Linked DNA regions of Homo sapiens: region 2 is linked to region 1. The links come from fine-mapping of genetic effects on gene expression. A gene starts in region 1. The other region holds a variant in brackets. All regions are shown on one strand. Distances are between the middles of the regions. Region 1 holds the start of CNN3 (calponin 3). Region 2 overlaps CNN3 (calponin 3).

What was found. PIP is the estimated chance that this variant, and not a neighbour inherited with it, causes the effect.
Region 2: its variant is fine-mapped to the expression of CNN3 in esophagus muscle (GTEx, PIP above 0.99). The same link has a PIP of 0.9 or more in gastroesophageal junction.

What each region holds. Positions count from the first base shown.
Region 1 is chr1:94,923,087-94,933,967 of GRCh38, reverse strand. It overlaps CNN3 (calponin 3), which reads left to right and starts at 6,858. Exons shown (of 7, transcript NM_001839.5): 1 at 6,858-7,130. The coding sequence starts at 7,074. It overlaps CNN3-DT (CNN3 divergent transcript), which reads right to left and starts at 7,608. Exons shown (of 3, transcript NR_168377.1): 1 at 7,228-7,608; 2 at 1,983-2,096. RefSeq lists silencers at 6,341-7,220, 7,321-7,750.
Region 2 is chr1:94,894,278-94,905,158 of GRCh38, reverse strand. CNN3 (calponin 3) reads left to right here. Exons shown (of 7, transcript NM_001839.5): 2 at 1,635-1,756; 3 at 1,971-2,037; 4 at 2,901-3,038; 5 at 3,374-3,490; 6 at 5,642-5,788; 7 at 7,076-8,202. The coding sequence ends at 7,417. SLC44A3 (solute carrier family 44 member 3) reads right to left here. Exons shown (of 15, transcript NM_001114106.3): 15 at 9,913-10,341. The coding sequence ends at 10,237. Among named protein-coding and RNA genes, the nearest start is that of CNN3-DT, 27 kb to the left of the region's middle. The variant T/C (reference allele first, on the strand shown) is at 5,298.

The DNA of each region.
Region 1 (10,881 bases):
GGTAGATATTCTGGGTGACTCTCTTGTAGGATACCTTCAGATTTTGAGGGATCTGAAGCTTTTACAAGTTTAGGAACCCTCGAGATAAAAAAAATAAAATAAAAAACAACGGATAAAAAATCAAGTGTGGGACTCTAAAGAGGCCATGGAAGTGAGCGGCCTTGCAATACAGACTGGAGAGAGAAGAGCTTGTGCAGTGGGCATCATCTTTATTTGCCTCGCCAGCATCTCTTCCCCCATTTTCCTTTGGGGTTGTGCGTCTTCCCTCTCTCAGCTCCTGTGGTGCTGGCCGAGCTGCCAACTTACCTCCACACCTACTTTAGGCACATACCCAGGCCTGCCAGCAGTGCCTTCCTCCTGGTAGCTGCAGTGATTAGCATGGAAATATGTAGGTGACAGTGAGGCTCAATTCTGGGACTTTTGTTAGAACCATTGGGAAGTTTTTCACTTAGAAGATTAGGATGTAAACCTGGACCTTTCAGTGGTAAATTTCTCCCCTGGTGGGTAGGGCTGAGGGAGTTAGCAGAAGAGAAAAGGTATGTGGAGACACCCTGGTTTGTCATGCCTTTGACTGAGTCCTTGACTCTAGCCATGCCCAATGCTACATCTCCTTGACTTGTATGTCACATGAACCACTAAAGTCCACTTTTTGTCTAAGTCGGTTTGACTTCGTTTTCAGCTTCCATATCTGTTTATCATAAAGAACTCCGGTGGACCTTGTTTGGGTCATGTGCCTCCTTGAGCCCAGTACTTGGCCTAGTGGGGGATAAGGTAATCCCTTTGAAACGTCCGCCACATGCTTGCCTCTGGTGGAAAAGGTGGCACACGATGGATGTACTAATAGTATCACCTGGAGTAACTGGTGAGCACTCTCCAAAGGGAGGGGAAAAAGGAGCAAATGTACCTTACAAGAGCAATTTCAGGGAGCTTCCAGGTAGCTGAACCCATGAAGGTTCCTGAAGTGGGGCGTGACAGAGAGGCCGTGGCAGTTCTGCTCCCCTTCTCCCATACCTCATCCTATGCATCTCTTCTATTCGGCTGCTCACATGTGTTTTGGAAAAACTGATTTCAAATGAAGATGGGCAACAACAAAGGATCACTGCCAAATCCAATACAAAGTTGTTATTATAAAGAAAAAGATGTAAAGGATAGGAGCTTTTTTTTTTAAGACAGAGTCTCACTCTGCTGGAGTGCAGTCTCCCAGTCTGGAGTGCAGTGGTGCAATCTTGGCTCACTGCAATCTGCACCTCTGGGTTCAAGCAATTCTCTCGCCTCAGCCTCCTGAGTAGCTATGACTACAGGTGTGTGCCACCCTGCCGGCTAATTTTTGTATTTTTAGTAGAGACGGGGTTTCACCATGTTGCCCAGGCTGGTCTCGAAGTCCTGGCCTCATGTGATCCGCTTGCCTCCCAAAGAGCTGGGATTACAGGTGTGAGCCACTGCACCAGGCCAGGGGCATTTTTATAATAAATTCCATAAAGCATCCCCCCTTGCCCCCCTCAAAAAAGGGTGACTTCAGATTCTTCAGGAGTCTGGGAAGTTGGTTTTTGAGCAATCATTCTAAACCAGGCCTGGTTTCAAATCCCAACTCTGCTCTCTGTTAACTGTTTGATATTGACCGAGTTGTGTACCATACTAAACCTTAGTTTTTGATTATAAAGTAGGAATAGATAATATTGATTATTATAGGGTTATTGCAAGTGATGCCTATAAGTGGGGTGACTGTGATTTAGCATCTCAACGGGACACTTTTGAGGGTGAAATGAGCACACTATGAAGGGGCTTTATCAGGACTGCCTGAAACAAAAAAATATTAATAGTGCCCTTTCACTCTCAAAAATGCCCCTATTTGGGTGATGAATTTTGATCTCACTGCCTGTTATGTGCCTCTAATAGTGCTTAGCACATAGCAGGTGCTTAAAAGTCCCTTAGCCTCTGAGCCTTTTAGGGTCCCTTCTGCCTTTACCATAACTGATCCATACCTTTGTGGTTCTCTTTAATTCTCTGGCATTGTGGACTTGTTACAGGAACAGGGTCCCGATCCAACCCCAAGAGAGGGCTCTTGGATTTCACACAAGAAAGAATTCAGGGCGAGTCTGTAAAGTGAAAGCAAGTTTATTAGGAGGAATAAAAAAATGGCTACTCCAGACTGAGCAGCCCCTTGGGCTGCCGGTTGCCCTTATTTATAGTTATTTCTTGATGATACGCTAAACAAGGGGTGGCTTATTCATGCCTCCTTTTTTTAGATCATATAGGGCAACTTCCTGATGTTGCCATGGCATTTGCAAACTGTCATGGCGCTGGTGGGAGTGTAGCAGTGAGGACGACCAGAGGTCATTCTTGCCGCCATTTTGGTTTTGGTGGGTTTTGGCTGGCTTCTTTACTGAAACCTGTTTTATCAGCAAAGTCTTTATGACCTGTACCTTGTGCTGACCTCCTAACTCATTCTGTGACTTAGAATGCCTTAACCGTCTGGGAATGCAGCCTAGCAGGTCTCAGCCTTATTTTACCTAGCCCCTATTCAAGATGGAGTTGCTTTGGTTCACATGCCTCTGACAGATTTACAGGGTGAATTCTTCAAAACACTTTATGTTATTATTTTCGTGGCAAGATGTATGGCAATATGACCCACAAATTTGCCTCTGTGAAAAAATACTTTTCTACAACTCTCCAACAACTGCTTTTAATTAATAAAAATTTGGAAAGGTTGAGTTGACCTCCTTAACAGCATTTATTTCAATTGAAAGTGTTCTGCATATTACAGAAACTTCCAGGGAAAGTACTTAAGATTGCTGGGCCACACCCTGGTAGTTAGTTTGCAATGTGACATTTTACTTAAACTGAGCATTTACTGACACATTCTACTGTTAGAACTTGGTCAGGATTTTTGAAATGTATCCTAACAGTGACAAGTTAAATACCATAATAAGAAAACACACAATCCAATAAAAATAGGCAAAAGATCTGAACAAACATTTCATGAAAAAGATACACAGATGGCAAATAAATACATGAAAAGAAGCCCAACATCATTACGTATTAAGGGAATTCAAATTAAAACCATAATGAGATACCATACTCCACATCTATAAGAATGACTAAATTTAAAAAAACTGACCTACCAACTGTTGGTGAGGAAGCAGAGGAACTGGAACTCTCATACGCACTGGTGGGAATGTAAAATGGTACAATCATTTTGGAAAAAGTTTGCAGTTTCTTAAAAAGTGAAATATACATCTTTCACTTGATCCAGCCATTCCATTTATAGGTATTTATGGGAGAGAAATTAAAGCATATGTCCATACAAAGACTTGTACATGAATGTTCATAGCAGCTTTATTTGCAATAGCCAAAATCTAGAAACAACCAAAATGTTCATCAATAAGGGAATGGGTAAAATCACTGGTGTATCCCTACAGTTGAATACTACTCAGTAATAAAAGGAATGAACTAATGATACATGCTACAACGTCAGTGAATCTCGTAATAATTTTGCTGAGTGAAAGAAGCCAGATAAAACAGAATATACAATGTGTGATTCCAATTATATAAAATTCTAGGAAATACAAATTAATGTATAGTTACATAAAGCATATCAGGGGTTGCCTGGTGGGGTGGAGAGGTAAGGAAGACTGGGAGGGAGGGGCTACATGAGGAAACTTTTGGGTATGATGAATATGTCCTTTGTCTGTTGTGGTGATGGGTTTTTAAATAGGTGTATCTATGTGTATATGTGTGTATCAAACTGAACACTTTAAATATACTTTGTTATATCAATATACTTCAATAAAGCTGTTAAAATTGTCCCAAATTTTAAGTTTTTCTCATTTGATTCTATAGTGCCACAGTAGGTAGTCAGACACAAGCAGAGCAGGAGAGGGCTCCCCGCTCCCACCAGGAATGTCACGCAACCATCAGGTGGTCAGGCAGTTGTTAAACTGTCTCTCTAAAATAATAACTGGTCACAGCCGGCACCAGGGAAAGGCAGTCTCCCAATGGCTAGAAAATACCTACAACTGGTGATCAGCAGCTTCTGGATAGGATCTTAGGAGTTGGCTGAGTGGGCTCACAGGTGTGAACTAAGAGGCAAAATGGTGGCATTTAACTGGTACTCATATATGACCTTCTTCTAGGAACACTTGACTAGTAAGCGAAGAATGCCTCAAGTGAGCATGCGTACAACCTCAGTTAACACACTGAGCATGTGGTCCCTCCCAAGTGCTGGCAGGCCACTGCACATGCAGACAGCCCACCTCAAGGGAAGAATCAGGGGAAAAGGGACACAACCCCCTGGAAGCATGCCAATGTATAAAACCCCAAGTCAAAGGTCAAGCAGCGCACTTGAATCTCTCAAGTTGCCCGCCTGGCCCTCTTCCAAGTGTACATTACTTCGTTTCATTCTTGCTCTAACTTTCACTCCTGCTCTAAAACGTGCCTTGGCCTCTCCCTCTGCCTTATGCCTCTCGGTAGAATTCTTTCTTTGGAGGAGGCAAGAATTGAGGTTGCTGCAGACCCATACAGATTTGCTGCTGCTAACACACTTTGGTGCATGAGACTCAGATACATTCCCTAGTGCTAACAACAGCATTACGTATTCTTACACAATGAGTTAAATTAGAAACGAAGGAAGTCTCTGGAGTACTGATGGAATCCAAGAGGACCAACAATATTTAAATAGTAAGTTCCAGTGGCAATGTCAGAAAGAACTTCAAGTACCTTAGGGAGGATAACAGTTGATCAAACAAACAAATGTAGAAAATTTCATGTTTACTTTAAAGTCACGTAAGTGTACAATGGCATTAAGTACATTTACAATGTTGTGTGACCACTGTCACTACCCATCTTCAAAACTTTTTCATCATCCAAAACTGAAATCCTGCACTCCTTAAAAAATAACTCCCCCTAAACAATAAAATTCATGGTTTTCAAGACAAAATACAATTCTTGAACATTTTACAATAAGCTAAAGTAGATTAAAATGACTTTGAGCATACAACAGGAGCAGTCAGGCTTAGATTGCTGCAAAAAGGCTTTGCAGGCTGGACACCATGATTTGTACCTCAAATCTGGCTGCTATTTCCCACACTCCTAGGTCCCAAAGAAATGTGGGTGAGGTCCTGCGGTTGACACACCGTCACTGTCATACTACTGGAAAAACAGCCCAAACTGTTAGCCTCAATGATATTGGGTCAATTGTGTCATCTTCGTGTGGGAAGAATGCCCTAATTATCATTACTCCCTTTGGACAAAATTAGCAAGTCATTTATAAATCATTTCACTTTCCTCCCTATTTGCCTCCTCCCGCTTCCTTCAGGTTCCATCCCTCAAAGTCATTGGGAAAAGCCTTGCAAACTGGATAGCAGTTTTGTGCATTTCCGGTTCAAGCTGCCTTACTCACTTTTTTTTTTTAATTTAAAAAAACTTTGGATTTTTTGTAGAGACAGGATCTTGCTATGTTGCCCAGGATGTTCCTGAACTCCAGGCCTCAAGCAATCCTCCCACCTCGGTCTCCCAAAGTGCTAGGATTACAGGCATGAGCCACCACACCTGGTTCACCTTACTCACTTCTATTCCAGGACGGTTCAACTATGATGTTTTGGCTCCTCTTCTCAAGCAGCTTTCCACACCTGGTTCCATGATCTCTTCTGGCACAGTAGCTGGTATTTGGCAAACATAGGTTTCATCCTGGGATCTCAGGGATTGAAATCTGTCCTAGGTGTGCACCAGAAAGTGGTGGCAAGAGATGAAGCTTCGGAGGAGGCTGACCTCGGCCAGGATTCTTAAGTCTCAAAGTTTCAGCTTTCTCACCCCTCAACGGACATGAAATCTACCTATTTGTAACTCCAGGGAAGTAAATGAGATAATGTTTGGAAGATATCTAGTCTACCAGCTGCTCAGGCGGGGGGCGAAGGTTCTGTTCCCTGTCCCTTCTCTATCAAATGGCTTTAAAATCAGAAGAAAGTATTACGGGTAGGAAATGGGACTGCGAAAAAAATGGAGGCTGATTCTGGCCTAAAGGATACTTATCTCTATACAAAGGGCTTCTGATTCAAAGAGGCCCCGGGATTCAAAAACACAAGCAGAGCTACACCACGTGGGGTTTGGGACGAGCTGAATTCCGGATAAAGATGCCTGTAAAGAGGAGTTGATGCGAATCCAGAAAAGCACTTGAAATGCCCAGGCTTTGCATGGCACATTCCCCAGGATTTTTTCGCACCGCATTTAGAGGTTTAGACGGAGTGAGCTCGAATCAGGCCAAAAGCCTTAGGTTACTCCTGGGCGGCAGCGGGGCAGAGGTCAGATCAACAGGTGTGGAAGGCTGCGAGGTGAGGGAAGAAGCAGGTGTCGGTGGAGGCCCCAGTTCCTCCGGCCCAGAGGCTCCAACGCTGCTATTGGTGTTCCAGCAGCGGGCGGAGGGGTCCTGCCCGGCATCTGGGCGCGCTGGGCCCAGAGCCCGGGAGGAGGCAGACGGAGGCGGCGGGTCAGCGGCGGGCCAGCCCCGGTGGGCTTCCGCTCCCCTCCGCCGGCCCGGTCCGGCCCGCCGCGGAGGATGCCTGGAGGTTGACGTGAATGGCCTGTGGCTGGGAAGCCCCCAGGCGCCCTGCCTAGCCCGGGGGCGGGGCCGCCTAGCCGCCGGCCCCGGTGGCGTGAGGGCTGGGGCGGGGGCCGGGGACCTCGCGGGGAGGGAGCGGGAGGGAAAGCGGCCCCCGCGGCCCTTCAATTGGCCGCACCGCCCCTCGGCGCAGAGGCGGGAGGAGGCGGCCCTCCATTGGTCGGGCCCGGCGGCCAATCCTCGAAGGCCCAGGCGGAGGCGGGGGCGGCCTGTGGGGAACCGAGGTGCGGGCGGCGAGCGAGGCAGCCGGGTGCTTCGCAGCGGAGCTCGAGGCTCTGTAGCACCCAGTTGGACCCAGTCGCCCAGGCACCGCCCGCGCCCCGCGGCCGTCTCCTGCGCCTCCCAGAGGAGGGAGTTCGAGCATCCCCCGCGGCGGCCACTCCTCGGGGCCAGGAGCGGGGAAGCGAAGTGCGAGAGACCCCGGACCCCAGCGCTGTCTCTTCCCGCCGCCCGAACCACCATGACCCACTTCAACAAGGGCCCTTCCTATGGGCTCTCGGCCGAAGTCAAGAACAAGGTACGCCTGGCTCGGGCGGGCGCGGGGGCCCCCGGGGCACCCTTGGGCTGGCCTGGCGCTGGGCCGTGCTTCGTTTGCTCTTCGCGCTGTGGCTCACCGTTTTCCTGGAGAGGGGCCGTCGAGGCGGCGCGAGCGTCTCTGCCTGTCCCGGTCGCGTCCAGTCCCCGGGCTTGCGGGGCCGGCTCCCGGGCACCCGCCTGGCTTTGTTCCCGCGCCGTGGGACAGGACTAGTGGCTGGCGGTGGGTTCCCGGGCGCCTGGAGTCCCGCGGCGCCAGCCTTTCCGGCTGCGGGGGTCTCGGGGGCCGTTTGGTGACTGCAGAACGCGCCCTCCGGGAAGGGGGCGCTCCTGCGTGGCCACTCGCCCTTAGGCGGAGCCCGTCTGCGCGGCCAGGGACCCGGCGAGCCGCTGCCGCAGCCCCCGCCATCTGCCCGGGCCCCGGGTGCTGGCGGACTCCGCGCCTCCCCACGGGGAGAGAGACCGCCTAATGTCCCGCCGACCCCAGGGGCCCCGAGGAACGGAAGCCGGTCCGGGACCCATCACAGTCTCCGATCTCGGTGCCTGGGAGGCATTTGGAGGCAGATTGCTGCTGCTGCTTCTGCTGTTGCTTTTGCGGGAAATGGAGACAAAGCCTGAGCGCGCCACTGTGCGAGTGATATCTGCTTAGGCTTGAGACTTTTTATGAAACACTGAGAAGTTTGAAGTACATTAGACTTTCACGACATAAAGGATTATTTTTGTGGGTTGCTTTTGTTTGGGGCTTGTTTGCTGAGGCGGCTTATAGTTTGGAGCGATTGGGATTTGGTGACGCTCAGCTTTGCCACTGAGCCCAAGAATGCGTTAGGTTTATCTTTAGGACTTTTGGCCTGGGAAAGAGATGAGAGGCGTCCCCCTCCCCAAATCCTCTCCTTCCTTCCTCCCTCCCTGCATTCCAAGCCCATGACATCAGGGGTTTCTGGGGGGAGAGACCAGCCAATCGGCGCGGAACTGTGCACAGAACGCTCATTGTCTCCTTTCTGCTGTTCTGGCCAAAGCGCCACAAAGGAGGGCTGCCTGTGGTTTAATTCCCATTAACCTCCCGGGAGCCCAAGCATGTCAGGATTGCCACCGCACCGTCCGACCGCTGGTGGAAGGCACTGGCATTGTCAGAGCTGGAACATCCCGGGGCTGCGGGGGTAGGCGGTGTGAAGCGAATTATGTAAAGAGGTAATGAAGCGCACCGTTGTCAAACCCCAAGGGAGAGTTGTGGCTCTTGTCTCCCGCTGTTAGTCTGCACATCATACTGTCTTTGAAGCAAGGAGTTGATTTTAGTCTATGTATCTAAAGTTGAAATGTTTAGGTCCTTTACCTTTTCAAACGTGTTGCCCGTATTAGACAACAGTTTGCTAACAATTTTTTTAGAGAGCAGAAAGGTGAATGGTTTGTGTATGATTGAGTGCAAACCTCACCAACTGAAAAGTTTGTAACAAGTTACTGTTTCCTTCCTTCCAGGATTTACAAACCGAACTTTAGGAAACTTCAGAGGAATGGGCATGTCCAAAATGTTGGATGTGATGTGATACTTTGGCCTGGTTGTGCACATTCATTGTAATTCCCCCCAGTGATTCTTGGCTGGCAGCAGTTGAGTCTCTACTACCTTTTGCATTGTAAATGAGGTACTGATAACGTTGGCAGCCCTTCAAGTGACTTACTTTTCTTGGATGTTAATAATATCCATGCTAATTTCTTTTTTGCTGACTAATGTAGCAGCTTTTGCCCTTTTCCTGCTTAATACTGAGCAGATCCAAGGAAATGCATACACAGGCTAGATCACTGTAATTATTGTAAATATTTAAAAACGGTAAAACCTCAGTTTTTAGAACCTTTGGAAAGTTAGTTATGAAAGCTGTGGATTTATCCCTTTAAGCACCAAACCCATTTTTTAATAACCCGTTTCATTTTTGTAGTCCTTTCAGACAGTATTCTTTCATAGGAAGTCTTTTGATCTTAACAGCAGAGCAGTCCTGTAAGGTGAGGAGGATTGCTGGGATTATCCAACATCATTTACAGATCAGTACACTGAAGCTCAGAAAGATTTGCTCAAGGTCACAGAAGTTGGACTATTCTAAGAATTTTAACTCTAAAAGCGATGTCTTAGTTGAGTGAAGTACTTAGGGATGTTCTACACAAACTCTGCTGTCTGTCGCCTTCCCCCCATTTTTTTTTCTTTCTTTTTTGAGACGGAGTCTTGCTCTGTCGCCCAGGCTGGAGTGCAGTGGCGCGATCTCAGCTCACTGCAACCTTCGCCTCCCAGGTTCAAGTGATTCTCCTGCCTCAGCGCCCCGAGTAGCTGGGATTACAGGTGCCTGCCACCATGCCCGGCTAATGTTTGTATTATTTAGTAGAGACAGGGTTTTGCCATGTTGGCCAGGCTGGTCTCCAACTCCTGACCTCAGGTGATTCCCCCTGCCTTGGCCTTCCAAAATGCTGGGATTACAGGCGTGAGCCATGGCGCCCAGCCCTTCCTCCCATTTTTGCTACCCACCTGTCACTTCTTGACATTGTGATTATTTATGTCATACTGTTTCTGATCTGTTCTGGGCCTGGGAATCAAATAGCCATGTTTGCTAGGCCTTTGTATGAGATGCTGCATTTTGACTGAGGCCTCAGGACTCCCGGGTGAAAGGTGGGTATATACAAAAGTGACATTGCGTGGTTTGACACCTTTTGATTCCTTCCTGCTTTTTCTTTATTGCATAATTGATACATTGCTTGAATGCTAGATTCCCCCCATCTACCCCCACATCTCATTTAACAAAGAAGTATAGAAACATCCTGGGGAGACAGTGTGGAGTGGACCTGGGAGTCTAGCATATGTGAGTTCTAGTCCCCGTTCTGCCACTTCCTGCCTTCTGTGATGCTGGGCTAGCTACTTGACATCTCTCTCCTAGCTTCTGTTCTGTAGAATGGGGGAAAACAATAGTTGCCACCCCCAGACACCATGTTGTGGAGATGTGTCTGGCTTATACTCAACTCAGTGACTGTATTGTAGCTATTAGCTCTTAGTAACAGAAAATTAGTTTTTAGTATTATATTTCTAAGATTTGTATGTCCCTGCCTCTTTAAGTATTTGGTTTGTATTAATACCTTTTGGTCTTGTTATATAATATTCTAGCTGTAAAAGCATTTCATCAATGAATTGAGGAAGTCTCTGATTTTAAATACTTTAATCAGTAAAATTTCAGAGAAAAATCTTTAAGACATTTGATTGGTAAGATGATAATACATGGCAGAACACACAAGCTTACTTTTTTTAATAGGCAAGAAGATGTGTGAAAACAGCCTTAAAAAAAAAAAGCCTAAGAATTCCAGTCTTTCAGCCTGGAATATGAACAAAGTTTCTTTAATAACAAAGAAAAAAATGACACCAAATGATCAATAACTTAGAGTTTACAAAAACTATCAGAGAGTAAAAGGGCCAGGGAAAATGCAGACACTGGTAGGGATGGTTCGGTGGAGGATGGAAACACTCATAAAATAATGGGCCCTACAGGTATTCTACAGGTTGAACCAGGCCCTTGAATGCATCTTGGGAACCAAAATGAAAAGTGAAACAACTCTGTGCCTCGTAAACCATGAAAAAACATAACAGGTACTCAAGGGAAGCACAGTATTTCCTGGCAAAATGTTGGAGTTGGGGGTAGTTTCCCGTAAAGTTGGATGGGAAGAGAGGACGCAGTGAAGCATGTCTTCATCAGGTTTAGAGCAAATGC
Region 2 (10,881 bases), 29 kb after region 1:
AAATGTCTGTCCTGATCCTGGTGATCAGGCTCTCTCCCTTGGAAAGGACCTGAATGCAGCCCACAGTCCTATATGCTCTGGCACTATGAACCTAGGGCATTTCCCACAGTTCTGCTTGGTTCCTCCGTGAGTGGTGTAGACTGGAACTTGTGGGACTTCTTTGTGACTAAAATGTCAAGATGCCATTTCATTTCTTCCAATGATTAAACCTCCCTATGTCTTATGGACACAGCAGACATTTCTACCTTCATTCCCATTTCCAATGATGTAATTGATTCCCAAGCTCATGATCTCTATCTCCTGAGCATTTCCTATGTATACTTGGCATTTTCACCAGTGCTGAATGAGAAGACAAATGATACTGGATCTTTCCTTCTTCCCAGCTGTGGGTTTTTTTTTGGCAGTGGGGCGGGAGACAGGGTCTCACTCTGCTGCCCAGGCTGGAGTGCAGTGGTGTGATCATGGCTCACTGTAGCCTCGATCTCGTGGGCTCAAGTGATCTTCCTACCTCAGCCTTCCAAGTCACTGGGATGACAGGCATGCATCGTCAAGCCCAGCTGAATTTTTTATTTTTAGTAGAGACAAGGTCTCTCAATGTTGTGCAGGCTAGTCTCGAACTCCTGACTCAAGAGATCCACCCAGCTCAGTCCCAAAGTGCCGAGATTACAGGTGTGAGCCACTATGCCTGCCTCAGCTGTGTTCTCCATAACCCTGATTGACCAGCCACTTTAAGGGGACTCCAGGACAAGGGATAGCTTAAGAACTTGGGCATGTGATTTTTTTCACAATATTTTGTTTAAATTTTATTTTTTCAATTATTTTAAATTGAGGTCTGGTCTTATTAAAAAGGGATCTTTCAAAACTTATGTTTAATAGTTTTACCATGTATAATAGCATAGCATTTGTGTTGGTAAGTTGGCCTTTATTTTTGAATTCTGCAAGTAAAAAGTTAAACTTTCTTTTAGTTTTATCACATGTTTGGGTGTCAGGTTCAATTCTAGATACTAAGAATCTGAATGAACTAGATGCTTTTCCTGCCTGTAAGAAGTCTAATAGGATAGAGACTACATAAACAGAATTTAAATATTGTACAGTAATTAGTACTGAGGAAAGTGTGTGTGTGTGTGTTTAGTATATAGTGTGTATTTGGCTGAATAGAAGGCAAATACCAGAACTTTCCAGTCAACAAAACTATTGGAATGTTATGTATTGGCCAGGTGAGATACTCTGTAAAATAACTGCATGTGTCAGAATCCTTTCCCCAGCTTTTTTTGGAATAGGGTGATTAATGACTTAAACCTTAAAGTTTGAGTGCCATATTGTAACATACCATTAAATCCTTGTCACTTCCTGTGGATCATGAAATCTGATGTCTCTTGATTGATGTTCTCTCCTTGTCAGTCCCAGCCTCTCCATGGTCTGTTCAAAATTTTGTATGACACGGTCTTCACCAAAAATTTGTTATTAGTTACTGAAGTTGTAACGGTTAAGTTTGCCATTGAGATCTATTGAGTGTCATTTACTACACTTCACAGCTGTGGTCTTAATGGCTAGTGAAAGCAGAGCGCGTTGTGAGTCGGCAGTTTCTGATGCTTTTGTGAAATTCTTCTAAAGTGAGTTAACCTGTATTTCAGATTGCTTCCAAGTATGATCATCAGGCAGAAGAAGATCTTCGCAATTGGATAGAAGAGGTGACAGGCATGAGCATTGGCCCCAACTTCCAGCTGGGCTTAAAGGATGGCATCATCCTCTGCGAGTGAGTTACAGCCCTCCAGAATCTGTTTCTGCTCTTCCAGTTCTTTCCACAGCCTTCTCTCTCACTCTCCTTCTCAGCCCAGGGTGTCAGACCTTGATATTCTACAGATATCTTTAATGCTTTCCCTTACTGATGCTAAAGGGAGCAACTTGATATTTCAATCCTTGTTTTTGTGTGCCAGTAAATAAGATGTCTCTCATATTTTTCTTTTCAGACTTATAAACAAGCTACAGCCAGGCTCAGTGAAGAAGGTCAACGAGTCCTCACTGAACTGGCCTCAGGTAACAGCCAAACCAACCACCTCTGGTTCTAGTTGGTTGCATTTTATGTAGTGAAAACTTGATTTCAGGTTTGGTTTTTTGGTTTTGTGTTTTTTTTTTTTTTAACTTTTTGATTACGGTTTTTACATAGACATTGTAGCAGAAATTTGTGCATATTTAATTTTTTGCCCTTTTGTAATGGTTCTGTAATTACTTATTTAACTAGTTCTGTAATTATTACGTTTAGCTTAGAAGTTTTCCTATATTTAGTCTGTGTACATTCAGAAAGGACTTGACACAGCTTACACAGAGAAATGCAACCCAGACCTTAAGGATAAGGGAAAAAACAAGGCATTCCACATAACTAACAGTGGACTGCAGAGCACTGTATCAGACATAACCTTAGTTCATGAGTGTGTATGAGGAAGGAAAATGGGATACTTACTGGTCTTGAACATGTGTTTGGAGATATGAGAGAATGAGTATTTAGTAACCACAAATGTATTCTGAAATTAAAATAACACATAATGAATTATTTATTAGTATGAGTAATTATACACCTTTTGACAAATAAAATTCCAGGCCTGGATAGCTCTGATACAGAATCCTTTTAAAATATATAAGGAAGATCTTGCCCATAAAAACTGAAAACACGTAACTGCTTAAAAATATTAAGACTGTGATGTGACCCACAGTGAGAGACACACTCTCTTCTTGCTCTTTCCTGTTCCAGAGAGAGCCATGCTTAGTATGTATTTGGTTGAATCCTTGTCAAACAGCTTTCTGGGCAGCGTCTTATAACTGTTTATGAAGACTTGGAATTCTTAGAAATTATGAATGTCAATATTTAGCTCCAGAAATTATAAAACTCTTCTTCTTTATAGTTGGAGAATATTGGCAACTTTATTAAAGCTATTCAGGCTTATGGTATGAAGCCACATGACATATTCGAAGCAAATGATCTTTTTGAGAATGGAAACATGACCCAGGTTCAGACTACTCTGGTGGCTCTAGCAGGTCTGGTACGTACATGTCTTTAATGGCTGGTTAACAGATTCCCACCACATTGGTGATGAATTGCATCATTGCTTTTTCATGGGGGTTCAGACCAGGTGGGGCGGGGCCTGTCTCTTCTGTAATTAGTAGCTTTGTGGAAAGGCTGCTGACATCAGCTGCATCGTACTAGATAGCTTACTTAGAACACTCACATTTCAAATGATGCAGTATATTATTGAACAGCCTTAAATACTTTTTATCTCTAGTTTGGGCCCCTTTGTCTATGGACATATCATTTCTTTGTTGTTCCTTCTGTGAAACTCTGTTGGCCTTTTCAGTTAGTGTGCATGTTTCTGTCTAGGCTAAAACAAAAGGATTCCATACAACCATTGACATTGGAGTTAAGTATGCAGAAAAACAAACAAGACGTTTTGATGAAGGAAAATTAAAAGCTGGCCAAAGTGTAATTGGTCTGCAGGTAAGTAATGTGGTGTTGCTTATTCAATTACTTATTCAATATGATTAATTCTCACCATGCAAAATATTAAGCCTCTCCTAAGAATAGACAGAAGTACTATAGTACTGGGGGGGGGGTGTAGTTTATACAATTTATATCTATTTATAAAGCCCATAAGACAGTGATAATTTTTTAGAGGAAACCTCAGGTATGCCACCTGACTTGACAATTATTTCTCCAGGAAACGAAAATTTTTAATTGAATCATATTGTCTTTTTTTTTTTTTTAAAAAAGAAAAATACACTTTTAAATTTTTTATTTTATCTTTTTTTTTTTGAGACAGAGTCTCACTCTTTTGCCCAGGCTGGAGTGCAGTGACGCGATCTCGGCTCACTGTAACCTCCACCTCCTGGGTTCAAGCAATTCTCCTGCCTCAGCCTGCCAAGTAGCTGGGATTATGGGAATGAGCCACCATGCCCGGCTAAGTTTTGTAGTTTTAGTAGAGATAGGATTTCACCATGTTGGCCAGGCTGGTCTTGAACTCCTGACCTCAGGTGATCTGCCCACCTCGGCCTCCCAAAGTGCTTGGATTACAGGCGTGAACTACTGCACCTGGCCTGTTTTATCTTTTATATATAGATGGGATCTCACTTTGTTGCCCAGGATAGTCTCAAACTCTGGAGCTCAAGCAGTCCTCCTGCCTTGGCCTCCCGAAGTGCTGAGATTACAGGCATGAGCTACCACACCCAGCCAGAAATGTACTTTATAAATTCCTTAATGTTATTGACCAAATTAGGCAATTTTACACGACCTTAATGCCAAAGTCACTTATTTACAGTACCAAATCATGATATAGCAGCCAAGCCCTGTTAGAATTTGTCAGTTTAAATTCTTCTGAAATACGTAGTTCAGATGTTTTCCTTCTCTTCATTGTTCTCTTCACTGGTCATGGAAACGTCATTGCTAATTCCCCAAATGCTGTTGGCTTTACTCTCCAAAAGCCACTGTACCTGCTTGATACAGTGCCCCTTTCTACTGAGTCTATGCAAGTTAGATTTATTTTTACACAGTACAAAATTGTATTGGTGGTGAGAAACTGGAAACCTAAATTTCAGAACAGTAGTCAGTTGGTTGAATTACAACTCCATAAAAGCAAAGTGTAATGTAAAATTATACACTAGAGTTTGAAAAGATAGGTTATGGGGGAAAAAAATCAGATCATCAAATACTGTGGTCAGTATGGATTTTTAAAATTAAAAATGCACATGTTTTTGTATGTATTTGTATATATGTGCATCTATAGATATATACATAGACACATAGGTTAAAAAGCTAAAAGGATATTCACAAATGTTGACAGTGAATGGATGGTGGTATCACAATGATTTTTCCCCCCTCCTTTTTGCTTATATGTGTTTTCTGAATTTTCTTCAATGAACAGATTTTATATTAGTAATAAAGATTTTCTTTAATCTTATTTTTAAAGAAAAAAGATCCAACATCAGAAAAGTGTGCCTAACCAGTGGAACAGGGTGTAATGGTTGGTCCTGAAGCCATACTGTTCTCAGTGGGGAAGAAAAATTAATTATTGTTTCCCTGAACTTTGCTGAGTTCAAATTCCTCATTCCACCTTTCTCCAGCTCTGTCCAAGGACATGGGAGTTACAGGAATAAAATGTGGTTCCTTTCTGGAGAAAATGTTGGTGATTTTGAAACTTTAAAAAGCCCTTGTTAAGCTCCCAGAGAAAACACTTGGCATTTGCTTTCACATTTTATGTAAAACATTCCTGGAGTAGAACAGCATATTGCTTGGCCTAGGATTACTTCTG[T/C]TGAAATAACCGAAGCTGGTACCTCTTAATTTGGTTATCTGGGGAAAGAGTAGCAGAGGAAATTATTCTGCCACTGTAATGACTTTTGGTGTGTCAGTCCACCTGTTAAAGTGTGTTTAATTCTTCTATGTATGAGTTTTTATCTATAGTGACTTTAAAATTTTCTTTTTAAAGTTAGCACTTGAAATTTGTTTGTAGACACATAGAAGAGTTGACTGGAGCCTCAGCTCAGTAACTTGTCGGTTGTGCCCCTTCTGTCTTTTTGGTAGCATGGAAAGTTTTGTTTGTGTTGTGTATATTGTTGACATCTGATAATTTGTGCAATTTTATTTTTAACTTAAAAGATGGGAACCAACAAATGTGCCAGCCAGGCAGGTATGACAGCTTACGGGACTAGGAGGCATCTTTATGATCCCAAAATGCAAACTGACAAACCTTTTGACCAGACCACAATTAGTCTGCAGATGGGCACTAATAAAGGAGCCAGCCAGGTAAGCAATACCTTTTTATACGTGTACAAGAGTACACTTACCTTATTTTTATTAACCAGAAGTTTAAAGTAGGTATTTTTTGTATAGTTTATTTAGAGTATATTCCTTCAGGAATGTGGACTTTGCTGGGAAAGCAAAATAATCAAAAGACCTTTTCGATAGCAGCAAAAGCATGATGTGTCTCGTGGTTTTTGTTGGCAGTTAGAACAGCTGGCCTTTCTACCTAGCCAGCAGAAAAAAAGATATGTTTATTACAGTGTTCTTGCTCCAAAATCCAAGTAAAATATTGCTCATTTAAATGCTGACTTTTTTTTTTAAGGAGCCCTTAATTAATAGGTAAAATTACCTGGTGTTCCACTAAGAAGGATTTAACTAGCATTCCTATTAGATGTGTCAATATAAGGAGATGGAAATGCAACATGGTGAAAATACCAGTATACCACATCCAAGATAGAAATATTTCCTTGTTAAAAATAGATCACCAGCACCTCAGAAGGAAGTTCAACAACCATTTGAGAACAGACAGGTCTCACATCCAACAACAGCTGGGATAGGGTTTGAAAAACATTTTCTTACCGAGTCCAAGGGAGATTTATCAAACTTTGCCCTTATGGAACACATCCTACCGGGTGCGGCATTATGTCTCTCATAGCTGCCACTCACGTTTACTTTTCTACCCACTCTGAACCTGGAAGTGTGTGCTTGATGTAAGTAGAGAGATGAAGTATGAGTTACTGTACTCTGAAAAAGAGGGGAGTGGCTGTGAAGTGGCTGGTTCTTCTGTATCTCAGCCTTTTGAAAAGACTCAAGTCCTTAAGATCTGCTCAACATAGTTTCTGTTGAATATATTATAAATTTTTGAAATTGGTAACCCAGATAATGTATGTGGTCCCCATGGGCATTCACATGGAACTTTCTGGTGTGGAAGCATTATGATTTCACATTCTTTATGTCTCATTCTCTCTTAAATCCAGAGTAGGTAGTAATGTCTCCATTTTGCAGTTTGAGAAACCTAAAGCTAAATTTACGTGTTTGAGGCCACATAGTAATTTTATAGCAGAGCAAGGATTTTGAAGAAAGGTCTCACCTAGCTCAAAAGCCAATGAATATTGCTTCATGGAAGTGATTCGGTATCAGGATATTTTGGTTAAGCTAGCTTTACCCCTGAACCAAATGAAAGTTCATGTATTACTGTTCATATTCAATGTGAATTCTATAATTTATAAATTATTCACAAGAATAGATTCTAGCTGCTGTTTTAACTTTTATACTATGTTCTAATACCAGGCAGGGATGTTAGCACCAGGTACCAGAAGAGACATCTATGATCAGAAGCTAACATTACAGCCGGTGGACAACTCGACAATTTCCCTACAGATGGGTACCAACAAAGTTGCTTCCCAGAAAGGAATGAGTGTGTATGGGCTTGGGCGGCAAGTATATGATCCCAAATACTGTGCTGCTCCTACAGAACCTGTCATTCACAACGGAAGCCAAGGAACAGGAACAAATGGTTCGGAAATCAGTGATAGTGATTATCAGGCAGAATACCCTGATGAGTATCATGGCGAGTACCAGGATGACTACCCCAGAGATTACCAATATAGCGACCAAGGCATTGATTATTAGATCCACACAGAAGGAGCTCAGTATTTAGTCCTTTGTTTTTATTCAGTGAGAACCAAGCTAGCCTTGAGTAATTTTTATCTTGTCTTCCTAAAACACTATTAAGCTTATTGTACTTTTAAGAAAAATTGCCTTACGTACATTCCTTTTTCCTTTTTCTGCCTCTTCCCTCAATAGTTGCCTTTTAGTGCTGTAATAGTTAAATCCTACAGCATAATCAATAACTCGCATATGAAGTAAAAAGGAATACTGTGAAAGGGGAGTACTCTTGTACAGCCAGTTCTTTTATGCAAAAATCTATGCATTTTTACAATCTTATATTAAACTGGTATTTTCAAACAATAGGAAACTTTTTTTTTTTTTTTTTTTTTTTACAGTTTAGTGTATCTGGTTTCTACATGGAAGACTAAACTCATGCTTATTGCTAAATGTGGTCTTTGCCAACTAAATTTAAGATGCAGCATTTTAGAAATTTACATATCAATGTTTCTACAGTATTGTTTGCTAATTTTTAAATAAAGTCATGATCAGTGTGCATTTGTGATTATATGTGTACTCATTCTCTTACCTAGCGAACAAGATCTTTTCAGAGTGGTGTTTCTAAAAGAGCATGTACAAAAGTGGCCTGTGGACATTTAGGCCTGGGTGATGCATTTGCTCTTCCTGTTTGTGCCAATGTATCAATGTAGAGTTGCTCTGTTTTCTTCAACTGTATTTATTGCTGCATTTCTCAGCATAAACTTATCCCATTGTATTTTTTATAAATAAATATTTTTTTTGAACTTTCATATGAACCACAGGCTGATTATTTTCTGGCTAGCTTCTAGATAGGTAGGGTCAGATTTTTTTTTAAGTACCTTTTTCCTAGGTACTGTTACAAGGTACATTAACATTTTATTTACTTCACACAACACTGCACTCTATGCTTAAGGAGATTGAGGCTTAGGAAACCATTACACATAGTAAATGACAGAATTCTAATCATTTTCTGACCCTTGCTTATTTCACTGACTTGGCTGGCCCAGATTCATCTTAAATTCAACTTGGAATAATCTTAAAATCTTTAGGAATATTGACAGGAGGGGTGGGGAATTTTCCTATCTTAGGGTAAGTAAACATGAATAAGAAACATGCTAGGTCAGCCATAGGATGTGCTGCTTGGTAATAAGCCAGGGTTTATAGTGAAACATAAACCTTCAGTCCTGACAGAGGGAAGGACAAACAATAGCTAGGTGTCATAGTGACAAAAATGCAGTCACTAAAAGAAAATTAGTAACTCACACTTTCCGACATTGTCTCAGCCAAGCCATGTCTTCTAATAGGATTGGCTCTATTAGGTTTGGGGGCGAAAACCGTCTGTTTTTTGCTGAGAGATGAGGAGTATATACACATGGTTTGATGAGCCCACAAAAGTGAAGGCTATTTGCTCATCATTCCACAATGACTAGGTTTAATGCTTCTGGGAAACTGCTTGTAAAGGAAACTATTGGAGTCAACCTAATTCAATGGTGGCATTTAAGAAAAAAGTCATTGCATTTAAAGTAGACCTGAGTTCTAAGGCTTTCCTTGTCATCTTTGACTCTTCAAAGTTTAGGGAAGGGAAGCCTTATATCACACTACCTGCCCTGCCATTTAAGTCAGATTGATTCCCATGAGGCTGCCAATCAACATGTTAAAATGTTTCTATTTGGTTAGAGTTTTAAAAACGAAAAGCTCTTCCCCTCACTCCCATCTACATAAATCTCTGAGGTCCAGGCAGAAGTATTTTTAAAAATCTGTCTCCAGGTAATTTCTCAGGTGGGGCTGTGGTTGAAAACCACTTCTTCCAGAATGTCTGCTGTAAGAGGAGTGCTTGTGTATCAGGAGTTTGGATAAATTGTGTGTGCCATCACGGAATGTGATCTGGTGGAGAGACATAACAGAAAGTGGATTCACAGTCATATCAGAGAAGAGCATGGAGGAAAAGGACAGAAGAGAGGGCAAGTAATGCTGCTCAGAGGCATTGCAGAAGCATGATGCTATCAGAGCTGGGTTTTGAAGAATAAGTAGGAGTTTGCCATTAGCAAAGAGGAGGAAGAGTATTCAGAAAAAAAGGAAGAGCATGTGCACAGACTAAATCATTGGTTACACTCCTGCCTCTCCTGTACATGCCCAGTTCAGGTGGTAGTTCATGTTAGAGTAGACAGTTTTGGCTTTTATTGTCACCAAATCTAAGAATTGTACTTTGAAAAGTTAATCCATTTAGCATATTTCCAGGATTGGCTGAGTAGGGAAGTATCCTACTCTGTATAAAAGCAACTTTCCAAGCTGGGCATGGTGGCATGCCTGTAGTCCCAGCTGCTTGGGAGGCTGAGGCAGGAGGATCACTTGAGCCTAAGAGCTGGAGGCCGCAGTGAGCTATGATGGCACCTGTGCATAGACACTGTACTCCAACCTTGGGAACATAGTGAGATGCTGTCCCTTTAAAAAAAAAAATCCAGAGATTTCTGCTAACAAAATCCTTATCTTAAAAAGGTTTATTTATTAGTTGTGCACTTACAAACTTACCTCAGTTCTTACATAGTGTACTTTGTAAGTTGATGCATATAAACATGGTTTTAGAAGAGTTTTTCTGTCCTAATTTGTACAAAAAAAGGTAAACTAATATAGTTCCAGTATTGTTACCTGGTCAAACAATAATGACAAAGACAATGAGGAAGAATAGGGTTTATTAGGTCTTTTAAAAAAAAATTCACTAACTTTTCTCTAGTGGTCTCATCTTCTATTCTGTAAATGGCTCTTAGAAGGAAATGTTTTCCAGGTACAGATACCTAAATGGGTATCTATCTCACAATGGCCTGGAGTTCTGTTCCCTCCTCATTCCTTAATGAGTGCTTGTCCTGCTGTGCCCTTGCATTGTTTAATTTGTTGCTCCTTTTTACGAAACTCTGAAAAACAAAAGAACAAGTTAGAATAGTATTATGTGTCTGTACTGTTGATAACGTAGGGGCCGAGGGAAAACTTCTCCTTTGCCCTCTGACGGTTTGCTGAAGAATTAACTTACAAAAGGCAGATTAACAGGAGAAATGGCATATAAAGTAGCACAGGGGAGAATCACAGTGAGTGTCTAAATGGGGTACAGATAATTCTGTTTTTGGGAAAGGGAGATGGGGAAGTGTGGATGATTTTATGGGGGTGGTGAATTACTTTTAGGGGAGTTTAATGAGCTTGAAGAACACTTAGTGGCTGGGAACAAAGTCTGTTGGGCCCACAGGACAGTGGTTTGTGACAAAAGTCTGTCCAGGTGTGTTGACTGAATTTAGTCTTTGTTTCTGCTATATAAGTCCAGTTAATGGAAAACTCAGGGAAGGGGCCAGAGGTGGTTTTTTTCTTTGGTGGGTCTGGACTTTAGGCAGATAAGGGGATTTCATTCAGATGACAGCTTCATCCTGTGCTTTGGGAGAAGGTCAGAGAGTTCTTGAGGCTTC